Linked DNA regions of Homo sapiens: region 1 is linked to region 2. Evidence: fine-mapped expression QTL. A gene starts in region 2. The other region holds a variant in brackets. All regions are shown on one strand. Distances are between the middles of the regions.

Region 1 (2,912 bases), 27 kb before region 2:
AAGTGTTCCTTTATATATAGATATTTTTCCAGCAAATTATATAAAACATAAAGAACATCCTTAGCTTCTAAGACTAAAGCAATTTTTTAAATGCCTTAATAGAAACTAATATTGAAAAAAATTAAATGAGGGGAAAATCTATACACTACTTTATTGTAAAAACACCTCATTCATTATTACCGATTCTGACAAACCACAGGAAAGCAACATCGTCTCCACAGTACATTAACTGCATATGGTGATATTAACAGACTAGAAACCTAGATCACTTACAGACTTCATCACTCAGCAATGGTATTTTTAAAAAAGGAGTCCAAGGTTCTGGGATATAGATAATTATGCATACACAACTATACAGTCACTATCTGTGAAATATAGACATAATGTAAAAACGTCTAGGAGAAGCAGAAAAATAAAAGTCAAAGACTCCTAAACTAAGCCACAAACCATCACAATGCCCCTTCCATTTCACATTCCAATGGGTTTAAATGTTTTAAAAGTTTTGCACCATTTCCCTCCAATAATGAGTCTGCACCCAAACAAGTATTAATCAGGAGGCACTCTGAGAGAACAATACTTACAATGTTTTTGGGATGCAAGTTGTATTGACTGACCCCATAGCTTTCTATCTTGATTTTTGAGACTGTCGTTGATGAAATGAACTGCAGGTATAGCTTTGTGCTGGGCACGTTTTAGTAGTTTTCCTTCCTTCATACGATCTAGCTCTTGCATAACGACCCAGGGAATTATTAACACAAGTTTGTCAAAACCTAAAAAATAAAAAGATTTCTTAGAATTTAACAAACATTTATTGAGCTACTAAATGGAATTGCTGTCCAAGAGGTAAAAGTTTTAAAGCACACAGTCCCTACCTTTAGGAAATTCACAATAAATTGAGAGACAATATATTATAAAATGGAAATTAAAAAGAAAATAACGTGTCAAAAGAATGTTAAAAAAATAATTACTCTTGGAGATCAAAAAAAGAGTGAGTTCAGATTGCTAGTTTAACCTGTAAAGGCTTTTATAAACTTATAACACTGAATATGCTTAATATATAGCATATCTAAATGGAGACATGTTCATGGCAAAAAAAGCC[C/AC]ATCATTGTTAATATAAAATATCAACTCAAGGAAGAAAATCAGAATCTTTAAATATGTTCTGTAAATACCTGGTACTTCTGTTGTCTTCAAAATTCTAACAAATTTGAGATGATTCATCAGAATATTTGTGTCAATAACAATTAGAAGCTTTCTGTCTGAAGTATTATTTGCTAAAGAAAAAGAGCAAATATTTCATGACACTTGATAACAGACTTATATAATGACTAAAATTTTGATATTACAGAAGCATTGAAAATTCAATTAAATTTAAAACGCCTCTTTGTCTTGTTAACTGTATCAGAGATTTACACAGTTGGCTAGACTCTCAAGCTGATATCTATCCGGCCCGTATCCTTGTTGCCAAGTAAATTTCTCCCCAATCAATTAAGGTCCTCTGGATAGGAATTGCAACCCCTGTTTGGAGTGGGAGTGGGGTGGAGAATCGTCTAAGTCAAAGTGGGCAGAGAAGGTAAGGGTTGGCAAAGCAGAAATACACGGGAAACCTGGGGCCAAGACTGTGAAAAACCAGCCATGGAGAATGTTTTTGAGAGCATTCTTAAGAGAAGTCCTTTAGACAATAAAAACAAAATTGCTTTTACTTCGATTCTTAAGAGAAAGAATAGTAATCAATGTTTAATCACCCACCAGTAGAATACTATAAATTGCTTGTAGGTGGATTTTAAATTATGAACTGACTTGCCTGGGGAGTAATTATGTTTCTAACTTCTGTCATGGATCACCGGTAGTTGTGCACTTAGTAATTATAAGCTAATTTTAACATATCCTGAGTGAATATAATTGAAAGATGAATATGTGTAAAAGAAAATACATGCTGGGCTTGGTGGCTCACGCCTGTAATCCCAGCACTTTGAGAGGCCGAGGCGGGCCAATCACCTGAGGTCAGGAGTTCGAGATCAGCCTGGCCAACACAGTGGAACTCCAGCTCTACTAAAAATTAGCCAGGCATGGTGGCACACGCCTGTAGTCCCAGCTACTCAGGAGGCTGAGGCAGGAGAATTGCTTGAACCTGGGAGGCACAGGTTGCAGTGAGTGGAGATAGCTCCAATTCCAGCCTGGATGACAGAAGGACACTCCGTCTCAAAAAAACAAAAACAAAAGAAAAACCCACAAACAAACAAAAAAAGAAAAAACATAATAATTCTAGCATTGTTATTGCATAGGACCATTTTGAGGATCAGATAATACATAGGAAAACACTTGAAAGATGAAAACTGCAATGTGAATGTAAGGTAGCATTACTTTTTTTTTTTTTTTGAGATGGATTTTTGCTCTTGTTGCCCAGACTGGAATGCAGTGGCTCAATCTTGGCTCACTGCAACCTCTGCTTCCCAGGTTCAAGCCATTCTCCTGCCTCAGCCTCCTGAGTAGCTGGGAATACAGGCATGGGCCACCATGCCCAGCTAATTTTTCGTATTTTTAGTAGAGATGGGGTTTCACTATGTTGGCCAGACTGGTCTCGAACTCCTGACCCCAGGTGATCCACCCTCCTTGGCCTCCCAAAGTGCTGGGATTACAGGCGTGAGCCACCGTGCCCGGTCAGCATTGCCATTTTTAAAAATGGAATTTGAAACAGTACACTGATAGATTTTGGATAATCTCTATCATTATCTTCTCCCAGTAGCAAAAAAAATGATCAAAATTTCACAACATGAATAAGAAATCAATAAATATAATACCTTCAAGCAATCTGCATTCTTTCTTTTTTTTTTTTTTTTTTTTTTTTGAGAGAGAGAGGGTCTTGTTCTGTCACCAAGGCTGGAATGCAGTGGCACAATCTTGGCACACTGCAGC
Region 2 (2,912 bases):
TAATCTGGTTTCCAGCTGGTGTTAAATGACATTAACATACTGAATCTAGCTTTCAGTTAACCATCTAGTCATTTAGAAATAAAAAATCATCATGAACGACAGTAAAAAAAAAAAAAAGAAATGAGAACAAGAATTATTGGATGATGCACAGATATAGTTAGCATTTCTGTAAGTTATAGTCAGTGTTATCCCATTTTTAATTGACTGTTGAGCCATGAGTCAACTACACATTCAGGAATACTAGATAAAAGCTGTACGGGACGATCAGTAAAAGGGATTTAGGACTATAACTCACAGAAGCTCCACAGGGATAATCTGTTCCCATTAAACTGGGGAGAGGTTAAACACACACACACACCCCTCCAGATATATACTTCTTAACTATAGGGGGAGGAGTTAATTTCCAGTTAGTGCTTCAAAGTGCCAAATAATCATGCTATCTCTTCCCCGGGGTTCTGAAACAAGTAGGAAACAAATAGACCAAGAAGATTGGCGTTTATCAACTTAATTAACTAAGAAAAGCTAACTGGAAGCGCGCGTCTTGTTCTTGAGACTAAATTGGGCTTCCCTCTCCTGCCCTGATGCCTAGAAGGTTCGGACCAAGCCCAAGCAGGGCAGCCAGAAAGTTCACGTTTTTCTCCTTTCTGTCCCAGTGGATTTATCGCGGGGGGACAGAAGAAAGAAACAAGAAAGGCTCGAATGTCAAGTAGGCACTAAGAGTGAAGGGGAGAGAAGTACGGGGGACAGGGGACTCGCTAGCATATGTTTTGGGGATCTGAAACGCATCAAAATTAAATGCCCCGAAGCTCTACCCACTCAGAGCTCTGGTTATTAAAAGCCTGAAAACAAAGCAAAATAGAGCAAAACAACTAATTTCTATCCACTGGCCACACCGCAGAACTGCTGATACTGGCAACATGAAGACTAAAGCAAAAATAAAAACAAAGGAAAAGAGTGTTCGGGTCACGGTGTAGGTGAGGGTGCGAAATGAAGAACAGACCCTAATTCCAAGTCAGCTGGATGGACAGGCAAGCTCGTCAGCTGCTAGTAAACCGCCGCGGGCCCGCGGGCTCCGCACGAACCGACCAGACCCCAACACCGGGCAAGGGGCAGCCCCGGAGGCAAGCCGGGCCAGAACCACACCCTCCACGGAGCTGGCTCGTCCCCGGACCCGCCCACAGAGTCGCCCCGCCCAGGTCCGTGTGACTCCTGAGTCCCCAGTCCGGCCGGCCGCCCGCCCGCCAGTATACTTGGGGCGGGGGACGAGGGGGAACCTGCCCAGCAAAACGTCAACGCACCCCGCAGTTCCTACCTTACCAGCGCCGGCGGCAGTGGCAACTCCGGAGCCCCAAGCCAAAGGAGAGGGACCCCCGCCTCCCAACACACACACACACCCCGCCCCACCAACTGTATGCCTGCTGGGAAACGTAGTTCTGCGCCCGCATCCGCACTACCTACTCACCGCCCCACAGCGCTCGCTTAGATTTGCATTTACTTCCTCCGAGGCTTGAACTCCGGCCCCGCCCCCAGACTGCGCAGTGTATCCTGGGTGCTGTAGTCTTTGTTCGGTTTGGTGGTTGGCCGGTGGGCCGGAGACGCACCGTAGAAACCGAACCCTCTTACCCAATTGGACGCCGTCCCCAGTACGCTTCTGCGCAGTTTGTGGTGGCGTCGTAACGCCTCGGGGAAAGGGAAGCGGACGGGCATCTGGAATCGCTGCCTCTGGCTTTCTGTTTTCTACTAACAGGATTTGGTCACTGGTTCTTCATCTTTTGTCTGTTGCACGCATCCCGCCCTCCCCACTTGCTTCCCCACTCCTTGGATCCAGCCCTGTGGGCATTCACGTCAGTTCTCTGACCCCGCCGTGAGCCCCGCTCCGGGTCCCCGGGCGGGCTTGGCACGGAGGCGGTAACTATGGAGAATATGGCGGAGGAGGAGCTGCTGCCCCTGGAGAAGGAGGAGGTGGAGGTGGCCCAGGTCCAGGTCCCGACCCCGGCCCGGGACTCGGCTGGGGTCCCAGCTCCGGCCCCGGATTCGGCTCTGGACTCGGCTCCGACTCCGGCCTCGGCTCCAGCCCCAGCCCCTGCCCTGGCCCAGGCTCCGGCCCTGTCCCCGTCCCTAGCCTCTGCCCCTGAGGAGGCTAAAAGCAGTAAGTGCAGAAGGCCCAGATCTTTCTGCTGCAGAAGAGAGAAAGTGCGCCTTGCTGGGAAGTAGGGGAGGCCCTTCACCGGGATGGTTTTTATGGGGCAAGGCAGGTTTAGGAAAATGGTGGGGAGGAAAGAGGGGCCCGTGTAGCGGCTAAAGCAGGGTTACAGAATGGGAGACGGCATCTTCATAAGCCTCGAGGATGTCACGGTGAGGGATATGCGGAGAGCAGGAATGCTGCAGATAGAAGGAAATAATGAGGTTAAGGGCTTTTTCTTAAAAGGGAGTCTTTTTAAGGTACAAAAATAGGAAGTTACACATAATTTGGTAGTTTCCCGCAGTCCAGTCTGCCATGGTTAACTAAGTTCTTTCAAATGTGACATAGTAACCGAGGCAACCTGTTTACGGTAGTAGATCCTAGCTGCCAACATTTCTAAACCATTACTGTCAACTAGCTTTTCTGCTTCGACAGCCACAAGGAGATGAGTTTTTCTCATTTCAGTTTTCTTTTCCCCCGCTAGCAGCTTGCCTCCGAAAAGATTTTGAGGCTGAGTAGTAGTTTAGGAAAGAGTCGACTAAATTTACGGATGTTTTCCCCCATACATAAATACCAATTGAGTTTTGTACTCCATTCCATCAGAAATAGACTGTTGAGAATTAATGGCCCATATTATTGTGCTTCTGAATGTGCCTGCATGTTTTCTAAGTGGTGGTTTATTGGACCATATAGGAATTTAAAAGACTGATGAGTAACACTTTCTTAAGGA

Evidence for each region. PIP is the estimated chance that this variant, and not a neighbour inherited with it, causes the effect.
Region 1: its variant is the best candidate, but not a certain one, in a credible set for the expression of SWT1 in whole blood (INTERVAL, PIP 0.82).

Annotation. Positions count from the first base shown.
Region 1 is chr1:185,182,601-185,185,512 of GRCh38, reverse strand. It overlaps SWT1 (SWT1 RNA endoribonuclease homolog), which reads right to left. Exons shown (of 19, transcript NM_017673.7): 8 at 1,169-1,270; 9 at 582-770. Among named protein-coding and RNA genes, the nearest start is that of SWT1, 27 kb to the right of the region's middle. The variant C/AC (reference allele first, on the strand shown) is at 1,100.
Region 2 is chr1:185,155,715-185,158,626 of GRCh38, reverse strand. It overlaps SWT1 (SWT1 RNA endoribonuclease homolog), which reads right to left and starts at 1,460. Exons shown (of 19, transcript NM_017673.7): 1 at 1,313-1,460. It overlaps TRMT1L (tRNA methyltransferase 1L), which reads left to right and starts at 1,674. Exons shown (of 15, transcript NM_030934.5): 1 at 1,674-2,149. The coding sequence starts at 1,915. RefSeq lists silencers at 1,068-1,187, 1,928-2,177 and enhancers at 1,728-1,837, 1,681-2,586.